Regions from separate parts of the Homo sapiens genome. Here region 2 is linked to region 1. The links come from fine-mapping of genetic effects on gene expression. A gene starts in region 1. The other region holds a variant in brackets. All regions are shown on one strand. Distances are between the middles of the regions.

Region 1 (12,352 bases):
CCTGCTCTGGTCGTGAGGGGCTTTGCTGTCACGCAGGTCACCTTGCACCCTCATGTCTCAGTGTCCAGCGCTGGCTGGGGAAGGGCTGGCTGCCTCTCCTGACCCTGGGCTGGGGTGATAGGTGGGGACCCCTTGGGGTGACGTGGGAACCTCACCACTGTTGAAGGCCACAGCTTCCCCTTCCCAAGCCCCACATGGGCTTCCCCTTCCAGATCTCAGTGTGTTCCTGAAGGTCACGTGGCTGGCAGGGGGTGGTGGTGGGGGTGGGGGGTGACAGGAGAGGGGGTGTTTTGGAGGGAGGCGGGTGGGGCACGCTGTTGTGTACAAACACCCACCTCCCACGGCACAGGGGCCGGAAGTGGCCCCAGAATAGAATGTGCTGCTTTCAAGTTCCAAATTGGGCTCTGGGGGTGAGAGCAGGCGACTCTGGATGTAAAAATAGAAAAGCCAGTGCGTGCGTGGGTCCTGGGTCCTCCACCCACAGGCCTGGTATTACAAAATAGAGCTTCCTAATGGGACCTGCCTGACACTCTCGTTTTATGTAGAAAATTGACTCAAGCAAACCTCAGAGGACAGAGCCAGCAGCTGACCTGGGCTAGAGGTGTGGCAGCCAGGCAGGCAGGGCAGGCCCTCCTGGGGAGTGCTGGTGGCCTGGGGGCGCTGGCTGGCCCTTGACCTGGCGTGAACTCTGGCTCTATTTCCCTCACTCTGCCCTCTAGCGCTGTGCCCCTGCCAGGAGAGTCCTCCCAGGTTGTGGGAGCCCAGCTCAGTCCTACTGTCCCCAAAGAGCCTTCGCCGACTTCGTCAGCCTTTACCAGCTCTCAGGCTGGCCAGGAAGCCAGGCCTGTCCCAGGCACGAGGGGCAGTGGGCAAGCTGGCTGTGGGCCCCACCCTCCACAGGCTCACTGAGGGCAGCTGGCCAGAAGCCCACAGGCTGGGGCCACCCACTGAGGATGTTTTCTGAGCAGGGCCCCGTGTTGGACCATCCTGGGGACCAGAGCCACTGGAAGAGCCCTGACCTCAAGGCGCCCCAGCCTAGGGGGTGGGATGGGGTGGTGAGGAAGGCTAGTTCTGGGCAGTGTGGTGGGATGTAGGTGCACATCTGGGCATGACTGTGGGGGTCTGGGGAGGTCCCCTGGGGTAATGCTACTGAGCTGGCTTTCCCGGGATGACGCTGGAGGGCAGTGGAGGCAGAGGGGAGGCCAGTGTGCAGGGCACTCTGGCGTGGGGTCTGGCTGAGACCTGAGCGGGCCTCCATGCTTCCACCCCTCAACCAGCACACACGTCCTACCATCCCACCCAACCTCCACTGCTCCCCCTCCAGCCCCAGGCTGCTCCTTTCCCCTTCATTCGGTAAAGGAGAAAATATTCCCCATCCCACCCAGGGCAAGGCGTGAGGCAGCCAGGCCTGGCCTGGGATGCAGAGATGGCCCAGAGCCTGGGAGGGGCCACTCCTGTCCAGCCTGCCCTCCCTGCCAGAGTGCCTGCCACCAGCCCAGCCTCCTGGGAGAGATGCCAGCCCCCAGCCCTGTCCTCAGAGCCAGACTGATGCCTGCGTGTGAGGCCCAGCCTGCCTCCTCAAACTCCTCTTCCCATGAGCCACAATCCTCCCCCACACCCCCTCTGCCCCTCCCTCCAGTGCTGGGCTGTGTGGCCAGGGGACTGGACTGTGTGGCAGGATGACTCCACACAGCCTCCCCCAGGGAGTGGGGATTGGGGGAGGTAGGGTGGGAACCTGTCCCCTCCTATCCCCAGGGAAGCAGGTGGGAAGCCTGTGGCCTTGGCCCTACTCAGGAATTGCCTCTCCTAGCGAGGCGGCCTGGTGAGGTGGTACACTGTATCACTGTGGGGCCACTCCTGGGGACAGGGACAGGTGGGAGGGCAGGGTCCATGCTTCCAAGGTCCTCTGGACACGGGACCCAGGTGGCAGCTCCAAAACCTGGCTAGGATGGGCACAGTGGCTCATGCCAGTAATCCCAGCACTTTGGGAGCTGAGGTGGGTGGATCGTTTGAGCCCAGTAGTTCGAGACCAGTCTGGGCAACATGGTGAGACGCTATTTCTACAAAAAAATAAAAAATATAAATAAATAAAAATTAGTTGGGTGTGGTGGCACATGCCTATAGTCCCAGCTGAGGTGGGAGGCTCACCTGAGCCCAGGAGGTTGAGGCTGCAGTGCCACTGCACTCCAGCCTGGGCAACAGAGTGAGACCCTATCTCAAAACAAAAGAACAAAAACAAAACCTACCTAGCCCCTTCCTTGGGGCTGCCCCTTGAGGCCTTTGTCTGTTCATTCACCAATCATGCACTGGGAGTCTATTTTGTAACTCAGGTGCCCTGGAAGCAGAGCCCAGACCAAGGGAAGCGAGGGGTCCAGGCACACCCGCCAAGGGTGATCTAGGGGCAGGAATGGCAAGTGCAAAGGCCCTGAGGTGGGAATGTGTCTGCGGTGCTGGAGGAGACAGGAGGCCAGTGTGGCCAATGCTAAGCGGGGCTATGGAGAGAGAACTCAGGGAGCAGGCAGGTGGCACAGGCTCGGTCTGGGCCCTGCCCATGCAAGGATAGAAGGCATTTGCCTTGGGGGAGGTGGGATCTACAGAAAGTTCTGAGTGAAGAAGTGACATGACCTGACTCACACTGTGACTGCACCCCTCTGGTGTGATGATGGACACTGCCAGGCAAGCGCAGGAGAGGGAGGATGAGGCAGGCAGGGGCTGAGAAAGGCAGGATTCCAGGTGTGCTTTGCCAACAGAACCTTCAGGGCGGACGGGATGTGGGGCGAGCAGAGAGGCATCAGTGCGGACGACTCCAGGGTTGCTGGCCCAGGGAAGGAAAAAGAGACTTGGCAGGCGCATGAAGCCCCCTGCTGGGACGCCTGTGACACGTAGACCAGCGGCAGATCTTGCCCTCGCCATCCTAACCGTCAGCCTCACCCTCAGCAGGTCCTGCCCTACCCCCCAGACAGCAGCTGCCTCTGCCTGTTCTGGGTCCTGCCAAATCAGTGGCATGGCCGATGGCACACGGGGGATGGGTGTGGCGGGGGACCGGCCCCCTTCTCTTTGGCCTTATTCTGTGGGTGTGATTGGGGCATCACCATGGGCTTCTACCCCGGATGTGCCCTGTGGAGGTCTGCTCCCCAGCTCCCTGCCGGCCAGGGGTCCTCGCCTTACCTCTGCTCACCTGCCCTGCATACCCTCCCAGCAGGCGAGGTCATCCTCCTCACCCATCCCTGCTCTGTCAGCCTCAGCGGAACCCCTGGGTGCCCAGAGGCTCTGGCCACAGCCTCCAGCAGCTTCTTGCTCGGAGGGGCTGCTGGGAGCTGCCCTGAGGCCCCAACTAGGAGTTCCTTCCTCCCACGCCCTGGGGTTGGACTGGTAAGGGGGGAGAAGGGGAGGAATATGAGGTGTGGGATTCTCCCCACGGTGGAGGCTGCACCCTGTTCCCCCTGTTTGGCTGAGGTGCCCTGCACAGAGGTGCTTTGCATTTCTGGGTGATCATTCTCTAGGCGCCTGGTCCGTCCACACTGTCTGCAGTGACCCTGCTCCGTCAACTCTGAGCTTGGCATCTGAGGCCAGCCCTGTACACCCTGCCCTGTAGTCAGGCCCTGGCGGGGCCGCACCGACGTTTGGCTTTGCTCCACTCCCCTCCCGGTCTCTGCCCCTTTCCCCAGCTGGTCCCCTGGGAACAGGACACTTGCTGTGACCCAATGGCATCTGCTCATTTGTCCATTTGCTCCTCTCGTGAGCCACAAGGGTAGGGACTTCCTTGTATCATCTTGGGTCCCCGGGGTCTGGTGTGGGGCCAGGCATTTATTTAGCTGAACTGGACATCAGGGACATCAAGATGTACAGCCCCAAGGTCATGAGTGTTTTGTCAGGAGCCTTAGACCAGTCTGGCCCAGCCTGGAGCTCCCTCCGCATGTGGCCTCTTACAGGAGTGACGCAGCCCCATGCGGTGCTAACAGTGGCAGCACTGAACGTCGGATGGGGCTGAGCCCAGCCACTTCCACAATGGCTGTAGTTCCTATCTCTTCCTCCCTGCTAGGAAAATGTGAAATAGCCCAGAGTGGGGGGTGGGCAGAAGAGTTGCAGGCTACCCAATGCTGGGATGAGCAGAGTTGAGACCTGGGGAGCCAGGCCCAGGACACTTACAGGTGGGGATGTGAGCAGGCACCCCAGAGAGTGAGCACCCCAGCCAGCCAGCACCCATCTACTCCCTCACTGGGGTCTAAGTTCAGCCCCGAGAGCTAGGCTGTAGGTGGGTAGAGTCACAGCCCCAGCGCCGGTGTGAGGGGTGGCCCTGGGCCAGGTAGAGTGAGTATCTGCCTGCTGTCATGCCCCATCCACTTCTGCCGCCTCCCCAGTAGAGGACCCCCTCCATTTCACAGATGGGGAAAAGGGGCCCTGTTGTCTGAAGACTCTCCCATATCCTCCCCTGCCTCTGCCATCCCCTGCTTTGTCCCTTCCCTTCCAGAGGCCCTGCCTTGGTCCTGGTCACTTCCTGGTAGGCACTGGCTCTTCCTCTATGCCTGGGCTCAGGGCCTGGCCACCTAGTTTTCTGACTCCTCCCACTTACTCCCCTCCCCAGTTAACCTCTCTGATCCCAAGTGTGTCTCTCCAGCAGGGAGGAGGGCTATTGCAGCCAGGGATCCCCTTTCTGAGGCTTGGGACCCATTATTGGGCAGCTCTGGGACAGGTGGACGGTGACTTGGCCCACACTCGGTCCAGCTGCAACCCTGAGAACCCGCTTGGTTTGGCTGTGTCTCCTGGAGGCCCTCAGGTATTTCAACCTGTAGGACCCAAACCCAGTCCTTCACCTGCTGCAGGGCCAGCCCTGGACACCCCTGCCCCTGCCTGATTTGGAGCAGCCAATTCAGCCCCTGTCATTGGACTCTGGCCTCTTGTGCTCAGTACAGAGGGTCAGACCTTGGCCGCCTGCCTGGACAGGGCCAGGTCACCACCACCCACCCCCAGCTCCCTTGGGTTCCCAGCAAGATCCTGTCCTTCCTCTACTCACAGCTTCCTGGGCTCTGGGACCTGGGGTCCAGTCCCCACTCCTCATGGGGAGGAGTCCCCCCACGCCCCAAGCAGTTGACTCCCGCACTGGTGGGGGGTCCGCTCGCCCTCAAGCTCTGCAGGCCCAGCTTGGTCTCCCCAGCCTCTTCACTTTCTCCACGGCTCCCTCCACCTACCTGGCCCTGAGAGCTCCCCAGGGAAGCCATTTCCTCCCAGGAAGCCCCTCCTCTTCTCGCCCCTGCCCTTACACCAAGGCATCTGGGCCTACTCTTAGGGAGAGGGTGATGGTGGAGGAAAGGGAGCCTCAGAGGAGGCCAAGTGTAAAGCACCCGGTCTCCTGTGCCTCCCAGCCCCAAGACGACCTCTGGGCCACCGGAGTCCAGACCTGGTCCAAGAGGCGAGGTCCCCCTGGGAAGTGCCTGAAAAGTACCCTGGAGGACATTTGGAAACAAAGACAAGGTTTCCTGGTGCCCAGCAAGCCCTCCCCCACCTCCCCTGCTCCTGTCTTGGCCAGGGCCTAAGTCGCACTCACGGGGCAGGGGTGGGGCCGCCCAGGATCAGGACCACGGGGCTGGGGGGGTGGACAGCGCCCTTTCCACCTGGGTCGCTGGGCACTGGGGTGTCACTGGGAGGGACACGCAGGAGGGACAGACACGCTACCTCACTCACGGGCGAGAACTAAGCACCTACTGTGGACCCGGCGTCTAGGCCCGCGACAACGCCAGTCTTCGCCCCCCAGGGGCCTCGTCCCGGGGCCGCGGAGGCCACGTGCAGTTCCCCGCCCACCCTGAGGTACCGGCCCCGCCCCACGCCCAGCTCGGACCTCCAGGATTGCGGGACCCGCCGGGGAGGGGCGGGGCCGGGGCGGGGCCAGGAGGAGGGCGGACTGGGCGGGCGCGGGCGGGACGGAGCTGCGGCGGCGGCGGGTCCCGCGGGCGGGAGCGCCTGGCGGCCGAGTCAAGCCGCCGCCTCGACCCAGGGCCCGCGGGCCAGGAGAGCGCTCGGCGGGTAAGCCTCGGCGGCGGGTCTCGGCGGGTCTCGGGGGTCTCGCGGGGGGGCGGTCTCCGCGTCTGGAAGGGGCTCGGCGGGCCTTGGCGGTCTGGGGGCTCTCGGCGGGTCTCGGGGGTCTCGGGGGAGTCTCGGGGTCCCGACAGGTCTCGGCGGGTCTCGGGGGTCTCGGGGGAGTCTCCGGGGAGTCTCAGGGGTCCCGGCAGGTCTTGGCAGGTCTCGGGGGAGTCTCAGGGTCCCGGCAGGTATGGGCGGGTGTCGGGGGTCTCGGGTGCGCAGCAGCCTCCCCCGGGCCCCGGGGCCTCCGTGTCCTTGCCAAAGGACGCACGGGGCCTGGGCACGGCGGGCAGTGCCCGAGGGAGCGCGGCTTCGGGGCGGGGGCCGGGTGTCCCTTGCCGGGGGCTCAGGGGTGGGAGGCGGTGCGACGCGTCTGTTTCGCACCCCTCGCGCCCCTCTGGCCCCGCGGCGGGGCCCCTTTACGCGACCCTCCCCACAAGACTCAAAGGCTGCGGCGGGCACTCGCTCTCCGCCCTTCCCGGAATCCAAACTTCCCTCTGCAGCGGCCGCGCTTCACGGAGGGCAAGAAAAGCCGCCCACTGGCGCTGATTCACACTGAAGTGTGAGTGACTGATAGCCGGGCGTCTGAGACTCTCATGGGCAACAGGGAATCTCAGGGGTGGCAGAGGGACTGGAGGAGTTAGGGGGCGGGGACAGCCCCTTCCACCTGTACGCTGGCCTCCCTGCAGCCCAGCACTTTCCCGCTGCTCTGGGCCTCGGCTCCCTGGGGGTATTGAGGGCCTGAGCCCTGCTGTGGGGAGCCTTCTGCTGGTGCTCCTTTCCGTGAGCACCTCCTATCCCCTCTCTGTGCCTCAGTTTGCTCATCTGTTGACACTGGGGACAGCTGTGCCTCCTGGTCTAGTGGCCACACTTAAGTCCTTCGAATTGGCTGTGGCCAGGGGCGGGTACTCCGTGTGGGCTGCTGGGGTGGACAGCCTGCCTGGATGACATGTGTGTGGCCTTGCAGGTGACATGGGCCGGTGATGCAATGTGTAGAATTGTTTCCACAACCGCCTGAAGGCAGGGCCCACAGCCTCCTCCTTGCCGAAGCAAGCCTCTGGGTTCAGGTCAGCCCTGCACCAACTCCATGAGCCTGGACAAGCTCCTGCCCTCACTGGCTCAGGCCCTGTGGGACCAGAGGAGGGGCTGGGCTCCACCCCCTCCTGGTTCTTCCCACTCTGTCCACTGTCTCCTCTACGTAGACACCGTCGAAGGGCCCTCTTGGAGCCCAACCTCAGGGCCCCACTCCAGGCACTCCACTCCTGGCAGGACAGGAGGCCTGGGACGAGGGCTGCAAGGGAGTGAGGATTCTGTCTATCCCCTCTCCCTGCCACCCGCCAGGCTCCCTTTGCCTGGCTCTGTGCCCTGCGTTAGGCACACCCTGGAGGGGGCAGGCAGAAGGAAGACAGATAGGCAGCCGTGTCTAGGAACTGCCAGCCAGGGCCATCTGGTGAGAGGGGTGCTGACAGGGGACCTGGCCTTTCAGGGAGTCCCCAGGCCTCCAGGATCATGGGGGAGCCCACCAAGGAGGCTGGCCTGAAGAGGCAGACAGAGGGAGGACAGGCTCTGGGCCTGCCTTGGCCCTTTCTGCCCACATGGACAGAGGAAGCAGGGTGCTGAGTCAGCTGGAGCTCCCCACCCCCCAGGGATGCACGCACACAAGCAGGCCCACAGACGGGAAGTCCAGGGGCCCAGAGAGACGAGATGGCCAGCCTTGGTTCCTGAGGGGCAGGGAGGAAGGGCGCAAACTCAGCCAGGATCTTGGGTGTGAACTCAGATGCCACCAGTTTCCAGCTGTGTGATCATGGCCAGGAGGCTTCCCCCTGCCACCCCTCCGTTTTCTCATCCATGACCTGAGGGCTGTGAAGCACTTTGTACCTGGTGGGTGGCTATGAGTGTCCGTAGGGGGGATGGTGGTGGTGGTGACATGTGCTTGGTATTCAGTGACAGTGGGTCGCTGAGGGTGCTCTCCCTGGTCCTCAGGGCCGCTGTATGTCCTGTTTTGGGTGGGGGCAGGGACTGGCCTGGAGAGGCCTGGGTAAAGGCCAAGGCTCCCAGGTTCCTGCCCACATTGGACTAAGGCCTGAGTCCATCAGGAGTGGCCAGTGTTGGGCAGCCCCTGGGTCTTCCTGCGTTCTGTCCTCAAAAGCTCCCTTGTGGGGACACCCCAGGTCAGTGACTATGTGTGGCAGGCTCTGCCCTCCTCACTCTCTGTCCTCTCTTGACCTCATGATCTGCCCACCTCCCAAAGTGCTGGGATTACAGGCGTGAGCCCCCACGCCTGGCAGAGTATATAGTTCTTTAATAACCGGGTGGCTTGGCCATCACTGTGCAGCCTGGGTGGGTGAGGAGAAGGGCAGGCTGGCGGGGAAAAGACGGGGAATTTGCCACAAGGTGAGAGCTGTCCTACCCCAGACGCAGTGGAGCGGCTCCCACCCCTCGGGCCAATGAATACAGGGTGGGCCGTCAGGAGGAGGGATCTGAGCCGGGCGGGCAGCCATGCAGGTACAGACAGACTAAGCCAAAGGCGGGCGGTAGGGAGGGTGGGAGACCAGTTTGACGGGAGTGGCCTTTGCATGCCAGGTGTGGTGAGGGTATGGAGGGGCCTGGGAGGCAAGGAGAAGGGGCCGTGCAGACCCTGGAATCCTTCCTCCAGGATAGGCGGCTCCTCCCCAGAAGGCCTCTGCATTCTTCTGGTGGCCCTGTCTGGACACCGAGGGGCTGGAGACAGTCCCACGTGTGGGCTGCCTAAGTCCCAGAGGGGGTGGTAGGGAGCATTTCAGGCTCACTGGCTGGCCCCCTTCCCTGGGGCACTGGACCCTCCTCACCACCCCTTGGCCTGTGCACGGGAGGGTAGACAGGATGGTGCCAAGAGCAAGGGACTGGCCCTCAGCCACGGGCCAGGAGACCTGAGCCTTGTAGGCGAATTGCACTTCCTGACCCTCAGTTTCCTGATCTGCAAAACGGGATGACAGAAGTCCCTGGCTCTGGACCACGCTGCTGGATTTGGGTTCCGTGCCGGGCCCCTGACTACACTCATCCTTCAAGGGTGACGCGAGAGAAGCACGTGCCCAGGTTCGGGGCGGGTGGAGACCTGGGTCAGACAGGAGTTCGAGGTGGTGCAGGCTCCCAGGAGGGGAGAAAGGTGCCCTCCCCCAACCTTCTCTCTTCTCCCCAGGCTCTGTAACTTCCAAGGCCATGAGAGTGGTCAGGCCCTGCTTGGTTTCCCGGCCCCCGATCACAGATCGTGCTGGAACTGCTGGCCCCAACGCCCTGAGGTGACTGGCCCTTTCTTCATGGATTCCGGTCACATCTGGTCCATCTTTGTCAGCTGGCCTCTGGGAAGAATGTGGGCTCGGCCACCTGGAGCAGTTGCCTGGGGAGATCAGAGGAGCCCTGAGGGGTTGGCAGAGCGCCCTCGTGGTATCCATACCCCCATCCCTGTAGCTGAGCTGATTCCAAGAAGTGCCCTCTGCTTCCTTGTGAATCAGATGTTTACTGCGCTCCTGCTGAGCCTGCTCCAGGCAGCTGGGTGGGGCGTAGGGTGCCTGTCTGCTCAAGCCTGCAGAGGGAGGCCAGCTCCCCACCCCAGGGTCAGCCAGGCTGGCAGGCAACAGCCTCAAGAAGGCAGTGTGCGTGCCATGGCACACGGGGCTGAGGCCGCGAGGCAGGGGCCGAGGGAAGCGGCACAGAGCTTCTCTCAGGCACCAGAGGGGAGCTGAGTTCTGGGCTCAGAGCAGGCTTCGTCTGAGGGCTTCAGCGTCCTCCTTGTGAAATGGGGTGAAAGTAGGTCTAACTCATGGGAGGCCAGATCCCCAGGCCCGAGCTAGGGCCTCCCTGCCCTTGACACTGTGTGAATGGGCAGCTCCGTTTGGGGGAGTTCCTTCAGCCTCGATCCAGGGGTGTTGTAATCTAGTGATGCTCTTCTGTGGCATTTGAGGGTCCTGGGTCCCCATGCCCTGCAGCCCTGTCCACTGTCCTGAGCTAGGCATAGGGGTGGGCCCTTGCTGCTGGCTGCCCCTGGACAAGGTGGGAAGGGATCAGGGGTCATTCTGGGAGCCTGGAATGCTGGGCGGTCCTTGGCTTTTTCTCAGCCTTGGGAGTCTGGGGCAGTGGTGCGCCTTTACCACCCACCCTGGTTTCTGCCTCTGGGGCAGTGGTGGACCTCCTTCAGAAGGCTGCTGCCCAGCCCCGGGCCCCACTCATGCAACACTGGGTGCCTGTGTACTGGGCCCTGGGCTAGGCATGCACTGCAAGAGCAGACAGGCCACAGGTCAGAGGGCAGGACCGCTGGCAGGTGCCCATGGGTAGCAGCTCACCTGCCTGGCCCACCTTGCCACTCTCTCCCTTAGAAGCAATTTCAGCTGAAGACATAAGTGTCTGTCCTGCTTGGTGCTCAGGGTACCCTCCCTGGCCACCCCCAACTCCACCCTGAGCTGGGTGCCTTCCTGAGCCCCCAGCCTGGTCTATGGCCACCATGCATGTTGACCCATCCATGGTGACCTGTCCGCCTGCCCCTCCTGCTTGGGAACTCAGGAAGGTCAGGGTCGCGTCTGAGAGCCCATGCCCTGGTGGTGCCCACGTGGGCCTGTCCCAGAGGAAGGGTGAGGGGAGTGCCGGCTCTCCCAGCCTCCCACTCCTGGGCAGGGAAGTGGCGCGGGCAACGGGCGGGCTGTGCCAAGCTCTTTGAAGGTGGCTTGTCACTCCCCCCACCTGTGTTTAACTCTACTGAGCATCAGAGCCTAATGTGCCAGTCAGCCTGGCAGCTGCCGCCCAGTTGGTGGAGTTTCCAATCAGATAATATCAGACTGTTGTGCTTTGGTCTCCCACGAAACTCTTCAGGTTTCCATCACAGCCTCCTCCCTTCCCCCTGCGGGCTGCGCTGTGACAGCCACCGCTGCCTGCCACCCGGCAGCAGGGACCCAGCTGCTTCTGGGCCTGGTCTCGGTGGCCCTGGCAGCGGTAGATAGGGAGGACCAAAGCCTGGTGAGGAAGAGCCGCCGAGCGGAGTCGGTGTCCCCTGTCCTCTCCCTGAACGAAAGTGCTTTCTTTCTCTGTAGCTGCTCTTCCTAAACGTGTGTTGGCTTGAGATTGGAGTTAGCCTGGCCTACCTGTGCCACCAGGGCTTTGGGTCCCAAAGAGCTGGCACCTGAGGCAAGTCCAAGCAAAAGGCCGGATTTCTCACCATTAGGAGGGCAATGGGGAAAGATCCAGAAAAGCTGGCCTGGGAGCCCTGAGTGGCAGGTGGGGGTACACAGCCCTGCATGGAGACCAGGCTCAGAGCCAGAGGAGGCAGGCCAGGAAACTCGGCACTCATCTCCTCTCTCGGAAACGCCCCTCCCTGACCCCAGCTGCTTCCTCTCCTCCTACTCGAGGCCAGAAAGGGAAGCCCCTTTCCAGTGGGGTGAGTGGCTGGCGCTGCCCGAGGCGGTCCGCTGATGGCTGGGCAGATAGTGCTGGGGCCTGGCCTGGCAGGCAGATCAGTGGTCAGCAGAGTGAGTTTGACCAGGGCAGAGGGGAAGATGACGGGGGTGCATCCCCCGAGCTGGGGGAAGTGACTTCCCGTTGCCATCACCTCTTGTGGCCTCAGGCGTTCCCAGGCTGAGACCTCTAGGAACACAGGTGCTGGGTGGCTCAGGTGGCTCCACCAGGCCAGGCCGTGTGACCTGGGCATCCTCCGCCTTCTCTGGGCAGGGCAGGGACAGGAAGTGCAGCCTCATGGGATGCGTGAGGGTGAGGGTGTGCCCATCCAGCTGCTGGGGCGGGGTGTGTGGGAGTGGCCCCCCAGGAGCTGCACGCAGCACGGGGCCTGGGAAACTCCAAAGCCGGCGTCAGGTCATCGAGGCCTCCGGGCTGATTAGGACTAATGGCGCTCAGGGGTGCAGCCTCAGCCTCCACCCGCCACCCGTACCCGCCCTGCCTCAGGACTTCGTTCCTGCTGTACCCCTGCTGGCTGCCTGTCCCCACAGGTGGCTCCTTCCTCCCCACCGGAGGAGCTGCTCCCAGGCGGGACCCTGGGGGTGGAATCTCTGAAATGCCTTCCCCTCGGGACCCTCACCGCGACTGGACTTCGCTCAGCTTCAGACCCTGGGCTGCAGCTGCCTAATGAGGTGGGATGGGGCCCTGGGTGTGTAAAGTGGAGGGAGGGGCAGTGGCCACCTCTGAGCCCTGAGCCATCCTGGGGTCCTGGGTGCTGGCTTCAGGAAGGTTTGCTACTTGGGGCAGGGGCTCTCTGAGATCAACCTTCCCATTTTCTTGAGGATGTGACCAGGAG
Region 2 (12,352 bases), 32 kb after region 1:
CCAGCTCAGTTGCCCAGACTGGAGAGCAGTGGCCAATCATAGCTTACTGCCTCCTGGAACTCCTGGCTCAATCGATCCTCCTGGATAAGCCTCCTCCGGGTACTATAGGTGTGCACCACCAAGCTCAGCTAATTATTTTTTAGAGATGGTTGTCTCTATATGTTGCCCAGGCAGGCCTTGAACGCCTGAGCTCAAGTGATCCGCCTGCCTTGGCCTCCCAAAGTGCTGGGATTACAGGCGTGAGCCACTGCGTCCGGCTATTTTATTTATTTATAGAGACAGTGTCTCACTTTGTTGCCCAGGCTGGAGTGCAGTGGTACGATCATAGACCACTGCAGCCTCAAACTCCTGGGCTCAAGTGATCCTCCTGCCTCAGCCTCCTAGAGCAGCTGGGACTACAGATGCACCCCACCATGCCTGACTAATTAAAAAAAAATTTTTTTTTAGAGATAGGGTCTTGCTATGTTGCCCTGGCTTAGTTTTCTTTATGTATGTTTTTTGGGGTTGGAGCTGTAGTGGAACCAGTCCCAGCCCCACTGGGCATCTGGGTCTGACCTTAGCTGCTCCACTAAGGGCTTAACAGGACACTGGCCACAGGCCTGCTCCCATCCAACTCCACTGGGGCCACAGGAGTGACCCTACCCAGGATGGAGTGAGGGCAGGCACAGACCAAACAGTGCAGGGTCGGGGGGTACTGTTCACTGGGACAAGAGATGAGGAAGATGCTGGATTTAAGTGGGCAATGAGGGTGCCTAGCAGAAGAGGGGACTCTTAACCTGGGTCTTGATGGATGAGTAGAAGTTCTCTGCATGGGAAGGGGTGGAGGTCATTTCAGGCAGAGGAGGAAGCATTAAACAGCATGGTGTATCTCAAGGAGAGCAGCTGGAGCATGAGTAAGGGGGGCTGGAGTAGGGGGCAGGGCATGATGTTGGGTCCTGTGGGCCTGGGTTAGCCCCAAGGCAGTCACTGGTCCTCCACTGACTGTGTGGTCCTCGCTTGGGCTCAGAGGGAAGGGGAGTGATATCCTGGGCTGGTGGGGTGGATAGCAGCCAACCCACCAAATGGTGGTCACGACCACTGCTGACAACAGTGTGCTGTGTGCTGGGCTGGGTGTCCACTCTGTCCTCCAGCATCTGAGGCTTGGGATCTCCCAGAAAGTCACACCAGGATGGGAGCCCAGGTCGTTTGAGCTGGGTGCTCTTGGCTGCTCACTTGCCTTCTTCCTGTCTAGGCCCCTTATAGGTTCACCTGGCACTGGGACTTGAAGTAGTTATGGCCTGAGGTCTCACTTACCTGGGCTGGCAGTTTTCTGAGTTCGTTCATCTCTACCCAGCCCCCGTGGGGCCTTGCGCTCAGTGGCTGTGTGCAGAATGAACCAGTGGAGAGAAAGGGCTGCACGTAGCGCTCAGGATCCTGGGGTTGGGTTTGTGGCTGAGTGGACCAGGGGCTGACTGAGTGGAGCCCGTGGCTCTGTCTCTCCCTGGGGTCCCACCTGGAAGCCCAAGGCCCTCAGAAAAGGGGTTTCCTTGCCTGTCATGGCCCTACCCTCCAAGCTGTGTCCTGGATCTTGGCAGTGTCCCCCTGAGCGCCCTGGCTCAGCCATCTCCTGCCTGACCGTAGCTGAGCCACGTGCCTTTGTCCTTTATTGCAGCTTCATGGCGGCTGAAGAGATGCATTGGCCTGTCCCTATGAAGGCCATTGGTGCCCAGAACCTGCTAACCATGCCTGGGGGCGTGGCCAAGGCTGGCTACCTGCACAAGAAGGGCGGTACCCAGCTGCAGCTGCTGAAATGTGAGTCCCTGGGGTGGTAGGGTGCACAGTAGGAGGGCATGGGGGCAGGGCTAGCCATGTAAGTAAGCATCCTCTCCAAGCCTCTGCTTCCTCACATGGTGTGCCCTCTGGATTTTCCCATTCCCTCTCTGGTGGCTGGCACCCCTGGAGAAGCAGAGGTTGACTTCCCTAGCCCCCAGGACTGTAGCAGGGTCCGGGGTGGTGCACAGTGCTGGCCAGCTGGCAAGGGGAGCTGCAGCCTGCAGCCAGGACCTGGGGACCACAGGTGGCCAGGTAGGTCTGGCCTCTGGTGCTGCCCTCACTGAATCCGTGAATGTTCAGTGAGTTAGTTGGTCACTTCGCCCACAGTGAACCTATGTGTCAAGTCCTGGCTGGGTGCTGGACCTCTGGAGCTGCACAAGACCCAGGCTCTGGCCCCCAGGACAGCTGGCTGGGAGGAAGAAGCAGCCCTCAGGCTTGAGAGATACCCAAATGCTGAGATACTGAAGGCCAAGAGCATCAGGGCCTGAGCAGCAGGTGCTCCATGCCTTTGCAGTAGCAGTGCCCTCTGCCAGGGACTCCCTGGTCCTGGGCCGCCTGGTTGAGATGTCCAGGCTGGACTGATTGGTTCCTGTACGGGCACTGGTTGAGCTGTTCTCCTCTTTGCACAGACAGCCTCCTTGGAGGAGCTGTAACTGGCTTGTCCCCCAGCCTGGGACAGGGCTGGGGCAGTGGAGCTAGGGTGGTTTCAGTGTAACTTTCCACCTAGGGGTGGCCCCACACCAGTGGCTCTCACTGGCAAACTCTCCGGGCTCCTGAGTCTCCCTCTTTTATTTTATTTTTTCGAGACAGGGTCTTGCTCTGTTGCCCAAGCTGGAGTGTAGTGGCGTGATCATGGCTCACTGCAGCCTCAACCTCCCAGGCTCAGGTGATCCCCTCAGCTGGGACTACAGGCATGCCACTATGCCCTGTTAATTTTTTTTTAAATTTCTTGTAGAGATGGAATTTCATTATGTTGCCCAGGCTGGCCTGGAGCTCCTGAGCTCAAGCGATCCATCCGCCTTGGTCTCCCAAAGTGCTGGGATTACAGGTGTGAGCCACCGCATCCAGCCTATTTTTTATTTATTTTTGTTTTTTATTTATTTATTTTTTTGAGATGGAGTCTTGCTCTGTTGCCCAGGCTGGAGTGCAGTGACTTGATCTCAGCTCACTGTAACGTCCACCTCCTGGGTTCCAGCAATTCTCCTGCCTCAGCCTCCTGAGTAGCTGGGATTACAGGAGTGTGCCACCACGCCCAGCTAATTTTTGTATTTTTAGTAGAGACAGCGTTTCACCATGTTGGTCAGCCTGGTCTCGAACTCCTGACTTCAAGTGATCCTGTCTTGGCCTCCTAAAGTTCTGGGATTACAGGCATGAGCCACCGCGCCTGGCCTATTTATTATTTTTATGTCTCACTCTGTCACCCAGACTGCAGTGCAGTGGGTGCGAACACAGCTCACTGCAGCCTCGACCTCCTGGGCTCAAATGATCCTCCCACCTCAGCCTCCCAAGTAGCTGGAACTACAGATGTATGCCACCGTGTCCGGCTAAGTTTTGTATTTTTTGTAGAGATGGGGTTTCACATGTTGCTCAGGCTCACCCCATCTTTTATTTTTAGAGACAGTCTCACTCTTGTCACCCAGGCTGGAGTGCAGTAGCACGATCTTGGCTCACTGCAACCTCTGACTCCCGGGTTCAAGCAATTCTCCTGCTTCAGCCTCCTGAGTAGCTGGGATCGCAGGCGTGAGCCACTGCACCCGGCCTTAGTCCCCCTCTTTTAGCTCTGGGGTAGTGGGAGCCTCCAACAGCCCTGCAGCACCCAGCAAGTCAGCTGTGGCCTCCCTGGGCCTCTGGTCCTGGCTCTGCCTTGCCTCATGCTGGCTCCACACAGCCCCCCAAATCTACCTCTTCTTTGTGGGCAGCCAGGCCTGCCCTCGGGTGGCACTCTGGGGCTAGCCAGTGTGCCTACAATTTTTTCCGTATTTGGCCCCAGAGTGGGCTCCTGGGGAGGGGGCAGCATGCCAGCCTTGCTCCCTGCTCTTCCATTTGGTAAGGCTTAGAGGCAGGAGGCCTGGCCCCAAGTTGTCCTGTGGAGGGTCCTCACAGTGGGTCTTGGCAGCTGCCCCTCCAGGCTCACCTTCCTGCCCTTGCCACCTCCCACAGGGCCCCTGCGCTTTGTCATCATCCACAAACGCTGCGTCTACTACTTCAAGAGTAGCACCTCTGCCTCCCCGCAGGGCGCCTTCTCCCTGAGTGGCTATAACCGGTAAGTGCCCGACCTGCCTGCTGACCTCGGGCCCCCACAGCCAGCGGGTCCCTCCCAGCAGAGCCCCAGCTGGGCCTGCCCCTTATTCCCGCCCAAGGAAAGTGCTTTCCCGAAGCAGCCTTCGTGCCCATCCCCTGTCCTCCCCGCCCAGCCTCCACAGTGCCTCGCCCTCTCCGCGTGTCCTGCCCTCAGGCGCAGGACCTTGGGGGTGCCAGGGTCTTCCTGTGGCTTTGTGCACAAGTCCCAGAGGCCTGGACAGCCTGCTCTCCAGAGTCTCCACTCGGCCACCACCCAGTGACTTCTGCATCTCTCCTCCCTCCCCACCTTGCCCCTTCACCCACCATGACCTCTTTCCAGGCAGCCCAGACCCCAGCCAGCCCAGGCCCTGTCCCAAACAGAGGCTGGGCCCTAGGATTCCCTGCTCCAGGGTCCTCCCAGGCCGGGATCAGTTTCCAGCTTCACGCATGTCCTGGGCTGGGCTCTATCCAGTGATGGGCCATGAGCTGCCCTGGAGGGCCTTCTGCACTAACAGGCAGGTGGGCGGTGGCCAGGTGGCATGTGGGTGGGGGAGTGCACTGGCACAGCCCATGGCCTGGGGCCCACACAAAGGGTTAATGCTGGCACCCAGCTCTGGTTCTGGTTGCTATCCCATCGGAGCCCTGCACCCCACAGCATTTATCTATGCCTCTTACCACCCCTTAAGGGCCCAGCCCCTCCTGCCTATGAGGAACCAAGGGTCACATGGTATCAGTAGTGGAACTGGGACCTTTGGAGTGACTCTAGGCCCCGGCCTGCACCCTGGCCACAGGCCTGGTAGGGCAGCCTTGCCAGAGCACCCAGCCTGGTGCCAGGCCCCCATGCTGGCACAGAGCTCCGGGGTCCCCTGGGGAAGGTCGTTCCCTTTCTGCAGACAGACACAGCGCCTTCCGGCCTCCAGCATGTGCCAGCCATGCCATGAACCCTGGGCCCAGTGGCAGATGCAATCATGCCCCAGGGAATTGTCTAGCCCATCAGGGAATGCTGGGCCTGAGGAGTTTTGGCCAGGCTCTTATGGGCCGTATAAGTGCACCTGCCCCGGTGCCTGGCTGGCAGGGCTCCCCACGTGATAAACTCAGCGCAAACCCCACATCCTGGCTGTGTGAGTGGGCCGCAGAGCAGGCACGAGTCATTCCCTGAAATGCACTCAGGGCTGCTGCTGGGCCTCAGGGGCACGGAGCCCTGTGGGGTACCCCAGGGAGGCCAAGCAGGCCTGGGCAAATGGGGCCAGAGGTGGGAGGGTGGCGTCCATGTAAAGTGGCATTGGCGGGCATCGAGGCAGGTTTGTCCTTGTCTCCTGTGCACTGCTGCTCCCACGAAGCCCACCCAGCACCCCTCTTCCATGCCCCTCCATGCCCCCTTACGCCTGCCTGGGCATGAAGCTCACTACTGGGAGCATCAGCAGCCAGGGCCCACCCGATCTGCCCTCTTCCGTTGGGGCGTGGTGCTGGTGCCGAGACGTGTTCACAGGGGGGTGCTGTGGGAAGGCCATCCCTATAGCTGTGAACCAGGCCGTGACCCCTGGCGCTGTGCCCCCAGGGTGATGCGGGCGGCTGAGGAGACCACGTCCAACAACGTTTTCCCCTTCAAGATCATCCATATCAGCAAGAAGCACCGCACGTGGTTCTTCTCGGCCTCCTCCGAGGAGGAGCGCAAGGTGACTGGGGGTCCGAGGACGAGTGCAAGGTGACTGGGGGTGTGGGCCTGCAGGCACCAGGCTGGACCTGCCTTGGGGGCTCGCTGGTCCTGGGGCGCTGGCCTCTCAGCCCCGGGCAAAGAGAAGGTGTGGCTGGGACACAGGCAGCTGGGTGGGTGCTGCCCCAGCTCCATCCCCATGCCCAGAGCCTGGTGCCAGCGCCCACACAAGGAACATGCTGTCCTGGGAGGTGCCCCTGTGGGCTGAGGGGAGCCACACAGCCATGTTGTATCCAGCCGGGTCGCCTCCTCTGACCTTGGGAGTCACAGCAGAGCAGGCAGGGCAGTGAAGGTGGAGGGGTGCGGTGGGGCCCACCCTGGTGGCACCGTGCCCACCACAGCCCCGCTGACCTGCAGAGCTGGATGGCCTTGCTGCGCAGGGAGATTGGCCACTTCCACGAAAAGAAAGACCTGCCCTTGGACACCAGGTGAGCCCGGGCCCAGGGCATACCGGGCAGTGAGGGTCCCTGGGGCGCCTGGGCCTGACCCGGGTGTCCGCCTCCCAGCCCCGGGCTTGGCATAGAATTCCGTCCTTAAAGGTTTCCTGGAGGTGCCAGCTGGGCTGCGTCTCTCTGCTCCTGTCTACAGATAAACACAGATACAGGACAAGCACAGATGTTCACACACAGACGAGCGACACGCGGACACGCACACACAAACACAAGCAACACGCGGACATGCACACACACAGAGCAACACGTGGACATGCGCACACACACAGAGCAACACGTGGACATGCACACACACACAGCAACACGTGGACATGCACACACACACAGCAACACGCAGACATGCACACACAAACACAGAGCAACACACAGACATGCACACACACACAGAGCATGCACAGGTGTGCATGCATCTCTCTGCTCCTGTCTACCTCCAGCCCCATCTGTCACATCTGTTTCTGTGTTGCCGCCATGGGTAGTTCCTGTTAGGGGATCATGTGTGTTTATACGCCTGCCACCAGGGAGGCCTGGCATGGCAGCAGCTGGGCACTTTGGGTTCCCAGCCCCCTACGCCCACCCTGGCTCACTCAGAGTGAGACCAGAATGATTCTCCTGGCGGGGCGCCACTGGGCAGTCTGAGCCTTGGCAGCCTCCCCCGTGAGCTGGCCCGACGTGCAGCAGATACTCTCTGGATTGGGACTTCCTGGCCCGAGACGATGTGGAGGGAACAAACCTTCCTGTCCTTTCACAGGTGGGGACAGGAGGCCCAGGGAGGGCTGGGCACAGCCAAGGCTGCCCTGCAGGTCCCTGCCTGACTCCGGGCTCCCGTCCCCTGGTCCAAGCTGTTCAGCCTCGGGCCCAGCCCAGAGTCGCCCAAGCCCTCTTGAGGCAGGAGCAGGTGGAGACGTGGGCACAGTCAGGGCGGCCATCCTTGTGGGCCAGAAGGGGCACCTAGTGGAGGCACCACAGCCTCCAGTTCTTCTGTCTGTCCTTGTAACTGTGTGTGCATGTCCGCGTGTTGCTCCGTGTGTGTGCATGTCCGCGTGTTGCTCTGTGTGTGTGCATGTCCGCGTGTTGCTCTGTGTGTGTGTGTGCAATGTCCACGTGTTGCTCTGTGTTTGTGTGTGCATGTCTGCGTGTTGCTCTGTGTTTGTGTGTGCATGTCCGCGTGTTGCTCTGTGTGTGTGCATGTCCACGTGTTGCTCTGTGTTTGTGTGTGCATGTCCGCGTGTTGCTCTGTGTGTGTGCATGTCCGCGTGTTGCTGTTTGTGTGTGCATGTCTGCGTGTTGCTCTGTGTGTGTGTGCATGTCCGCGTGTTGCTCTGTGTGTGTGTGTGTGCATGTCTGCATGTTGCTCTGTGTGTGTGTGCATGTCTGTGTGTTGCTCTGTGTTTGTGTGTGCATGTCTGCGTGTTGCTCTGTGTGTGTGTGCATGTCCACGTGTTGCTCTGTGTGTGTGCATGTCCTCATGTTGCTCTGTGTGTGTGTGCATGTCCGCATGTTGCTCTGTGTGTGTGCATGTCCGCGTGTTGCTTGTGTTTGTGTGTGCGTGTCCGTGTGTCGCTCGTCTGTGTGTGAACATGTGTGCTTGTCCTGTATCTGTGTTTATCTGTATACTTCCATGTCTGTGTGACAGAGTCCTTGTGTCTGTGTGTCTACATGTCTGCGCGTGTCCCTGTGTCTTTGTGTATATATATCCATGCCTGTGTGCCTGTGTTCCTGCGTGTGCTTGTGTGTGCACGTGTGCATTTGTGTGTTTGTCAGAGTATGTGTGCATGTGTGTGTCTGTCAGCGTATCCATGTGTGCATGTGTGTGTCTGTCAGCG[T/G]ATCCGTGTGTGCATGTGTGTGTCTGTCAGCTTAACCATGTGTGCATGTGTTTGTCAGTGTATCCGTGTGTGCATCTGTGTATCTGTCCATGTATCCGCGTGTGCCTGTGTGTACCTTTGTGTGAGCATCAAGGGACCTCCCAGGCCTGGTGCTCACCGTCCGCCCCAACGCACCCTGCATTGCAGCGACTCCAGCTCGGACACAGACAGCTTCTACGGCGCAGTTGAGCGGCCTGTGGATATCAGCCTTTCCCCGTACCCCACGGACAATGAAGGTGAGGTCTTTCTCCGCATCCACTGCCCGTTTGCCTCTCCCCACCTGGCCTCCTCTTGGCCGCTGTGGAGGAGAGGGAGGTGTGTTCGGCTGTGCTCCTTGCTCTGGCCCTTTGGCAGTGCGCAGTAGCATCCCTGGGCTCTGGCCTTCAGCGGCAGGGTCTGGACTCACAGTCCTCCCAGCAGGTGCTTGCCCCTTGCCTCCTGGACTCAGCCCCATGCATGGAGCATTGCTCGGAGACTGGGCCTGGGCCGGTTTGGCTCTCACCACCCCCCTCTCCCCATGCAGACTATGAGCACGACGATGAGGATGACTCCTACCTGGAGCCTGACTCCCCGGAGCCCGGAAGGCTTGAGGGTAGGTGGGGCGGGTGGGCCCGGGGAGCTCTGGGTGTGTAGGAAGCAGGGGCTGGGACCGGGAGCAGAGCCCCTCCGAGGCTGGGGATGCTGGCCCAGGTACCGCTCTGGGTGGCTTCCGCTTCCCTGCTGTGTCCCAAGTATTATGAGGATTGGAGCAGAAGAGGTGTAGCTGCTGCCACCTCTGCTCATTTCCTCCTCCCACCTCCCAGGAGGAGGGACAGGCACATGGCGATAAGTGGCAGGTGGAGCCGGGGTGGCCCTGGGGGTTAAGCATGGGGAAGGAAGGACGCTGAGGAGCGCGCAGGCTCAGGGCAGGTCCATGTCCCCATGGCTGCCAGCTTGTGTGGACACTGCTGCAGGCCAGGTCGTTGTCCCACCCCACCCCATCCCATCCCAGTGTCCACCTACCTCCTGCAGCACATGGCCTAGTCAAAGAGACAGGCTGATACAGGTGGTCACACGTGGATGACGGAAGCACGAGCTGGGTGGGGAGGACGTGTCTCTGTCCTCCTCTGTCGCCTCCCTCCCTTCCTCCCTCCCTATTGTCTCTCCAGCCCCCTCATCTTGTCAATTTCCTCATGTCTGGGGCTGATCCTTGATCCTTCCATTTTCCCTGCGTCCGCCCTGCCTCCTTGTTTTCCAGCCTCCTGTTCTCACTGACTTGGCCTCTGCCGACCCCAGCCCCTGACCCCGTATCCTCTCTGCCTCCCATCCACTCCCACCTTCAGGCTCCCGGGTCCAGCCCCTCTTCTCCTGCCGCTCCCTCCCTCCTTCCCTCTGGGGTCCCAGTGCCAACAGTCCTTCAGCCCACGAGGGTCTGCGGGCCGCTTGCCTCAGTTTCCTTCCATGCAGAGCTCTTGTCTCACAGTGTTCACCATGCCTGTCCCTTCGCCCACACACTACTGCCTTCCGTCTTAGCCTGGCTGGCCAAGCCTTGGTGAACTCAGACTCCGTCTGCCCAGCCCTGAGCTGCAGCCCAGTGAGGCTAGAGATGGGCCTGGGGAGCCACCAGTGCTCCTGCATGCTACTGCTCCACTCACCCTCCCTCTGTACCCCCTTCATCCTCTCCCCGAGACATTTCTCGTCCAGGACGCCTGTGGCCTCCCCATTCCCAGTTCCAGCGCTCAGTCCTGAGCCACACCAGCCTGGCGCCTGCCCTGTTCCTTGCCAGCCCGTCCTCCAGGCGCCCCGTGCTCCCGGGGTCCTCTTTCTCCTCAGCTCCTGTGCTGGCCCCATGAGGGATACCCGGGACTCAGACCTCACTCCTCTCCCGAATTCCCTGGGTGACAGCCTGGGTCATCTGCAGGCTGCCCGCTCCGAGTCATGTCCAGCCTGGATTTTTGAACTCTGCACACATTCCCTGACCCCGCATCCCCTGGCATCTCCCAGCTTTCTGGATATGTTCTGAGCAAACACGGGCCTTCACCTTCCTCCCAGCTGCTCCCCTCCCCTGTCCTTGGGAATTCCGTCCTCCCTCTCGCTCCAGCCGAGCCCTGAGATCCTTCTTGACTTCTCTTCCTTTCTCTTCCTTCCACCTCTGGGAACCTGATGGGCTCCTCAGGTGTCCTCTAGGCTTCAGGAAGCGTCCACAGGCTGCCATAGGGAGGATGAATGGGGAAGGCTGGGGGTGGTGGGTGGTCTGGGACCCTGGGGAAGGCAGGATGGGAGTGCTGGGTGCTGGGCTGCTGGGTGGGCAGGCTGTGGGGTGGGCCTACCATGGGTTGCACTCCTGGTTGGCCTGGCTGACCACTGCCAGCAGAGGATAGTGTTGGCCCAGTCTCTGTCAGGGTCCAACCCGGGTCTCTTTGCTCTGCAGATGCCCTGATGCACCCACCGGCTTACCCACCACCCCCAGTGCCCACGCCCAGGAAGCCAGCCTTCTCTGACATGCCCCGGGCCCACTCCTTTACCTCCAAGGGCCCCGGTCCCCTACTGCCACCCCCGCCCCCTAAGCACGGCCTCCCAGATGTTGGCCTGGCTGCTGAGGACTCCAAGAGGGACCCACTGTGCCCGAGGCGGGCTGAGCCTTGCCCCAGGGTACCTGCTACCCCCCGAAGGATGAGCGATCCCCCTCTGAGCACCATGCCCACCGCACCCGGCCTCCGGAAACCCCCTTGCTTCCGGGAGAGTGCCAGCCCCAGCCCGGAGCCCTGGACCCCTGGCCACGGGGCCTGCTCCACTTCCAGTGCTGCCATCATGGCCACTGCCACCTCCAGAAACTGTGACAAACTCAAGTCCTTCCACCTGTCCCCCCGAGGACCACCCACATCTGAGCCCCCACCTGTGCCAGCCAACAAGCCCAAGTTCCTGAAGATAGCTGAAGAGGACCCCCCAAGGGAGGCAGCCATGCCCGGACTCTTTGTGCCCCCCGTGGCTCCCCGGCCTCCTGCGCTGAAGCTGCCAGTGCCTGAGGCCATGGCGCGGCCCGCAGTCCTGCCCAGGCCAGAGAAGCCGCAGCTCCCGCACCTCCAGTGAGTTTGTGTGGCGGCTGCAAGCCCTGCCTCCAGCTACAGGGACCCTGGCCTGGCCTCTGACGGGCACTCTGCCCACCTCGCTCCCCTGGCACTCTTAGCCCACGACGGGGTACCAGGTGCAAGGGTAGGAAGGTTCCCGGTTGCCTCCAGTCCGCCTTGGTGGAACGTGGAGCATGTCCATGACTCAGCCCTGAAGCTTGCTGGAAATGCTTTGTTTTTTTTTCTTTTTGAGACAGGGTCTCACGCTGGCAACCAAGCTGGAGTGCAGTGGTGCGATCTCAGCTCACTGCAACCTCCACCTCCGGGGTTCAGGTGATTCTCCTGCCTCAGCCTCCCAAGTAGCTGGGACTACAGGCACCTGCCAACACGCCCGGCTAATTTTTGTATTTTTAGTAGAGACAGGGGTTTCACTATGTTGGCCAGGTTGGTCTTGAACTCCTGGTCTCAAGTGATCCGCCTGCCTCGGCCTCTCAAAGTGTAGAGATTACGGGCGTGAGCCACCGCGTCCTGCTGAAATGCTTTCTGCTTTATTTCTGGGAAGTGCCAGGAGACCAGTTTGTCCCCCACTCCCACAGAGTTACGCCAATGGCTGTGGTCAAAGGCATCTGGGACCCCAGGTGGGCTTCCTGCCTTGCCTGGCAGGCAAAGGGTCCAGGAACTGGAGGGGCAGGTTTCGCATGGGTGTGCTGGCCGGCACGCGCACCCCCGAATGCCCTTGCCCACGGTGCCCTTCTCCCAGGGCTCTGCGAACACCTCTGAGATGCCTGCTGCCTGTGTGGAAGTGCCTCTGAGCAGCCCTTGTCACACTCGTGGTTCTAGTTCACCAAGGGCTGCAGAGATGCAGATGTTCGGAAGTCACGTTTTTCCATGACTGTGGGGATAGCGGTTCCAGGGCTCAGCCTCACCCACAGGCTGGCCTCCCATGCTGGCGTGGCCCGTTAATCCTCCCTAGAGCCTTTGAGGCTTTGCTGAGCAGGACCGGCTAGCCACACAGGGAGGCGTGCAGGGACGCCATGGGCGTCCTTTGGGGTCACACTGCATTGTTCATCCAGTTCACGTCCACTCCCCTGTGGCTCTGAGTGGGCTGTGATTTGGCCATGACCGGACCTCCCCTCCCCACGAGCATCCAGAGCACTTGTTGACGGTGTGATGACACTGAGCTTG

Evidence for each region. PIP is the estimated chance that this variant, and not a neighbour inherited with it, causes the effect.
Region 2: its variant is fine-mapped to the expression of SH3BP2 in whole blood (TOPMed, PIP above 0.99).

The regions. Positions count from the first base shown.
Region 1 is chr4:2,787,118-2,799,469 of GRCh38, forward strand. SH3BP2 (SH3 domain binding protein 2) reads left to right here and starts at 5,968. Exons shown (of 13, transcript NM_001122681.2): 1 at 5,968-6,021. RefSeq lists enhancers at 1-129, 332-641, 765-1,399, 982-1,041, 11,389-11,728 and a silencer at 5,686-6,035.
Region 2 is chr4:2,818,963-2,831,314 of GRCh38, forward strand. SH3BP2 (SH3 domain binding protein 2) reads left to right here. Exons shown (of 13, transcript NM_001122681.2): 2 at 1,652-1,791; 3 at 3,973-4,075; 4 at 5,651-5,768; 5 at 6,164-6,234; 6 at 8,268-8,356; 7 at 8,644-8,712; 8 at 10,531-11,185. The coding sequence starts at 1,656. Among named protein-coding and RNA genes, the nearest start is that of ADD1, 19 kb to the right of the region's middle. RefSeq lists enhancers at 1,126-1,627, 6,987-7,873, 7,874-8,759. The variant T/G (reference allele first, on the strand shown) is at 8,082.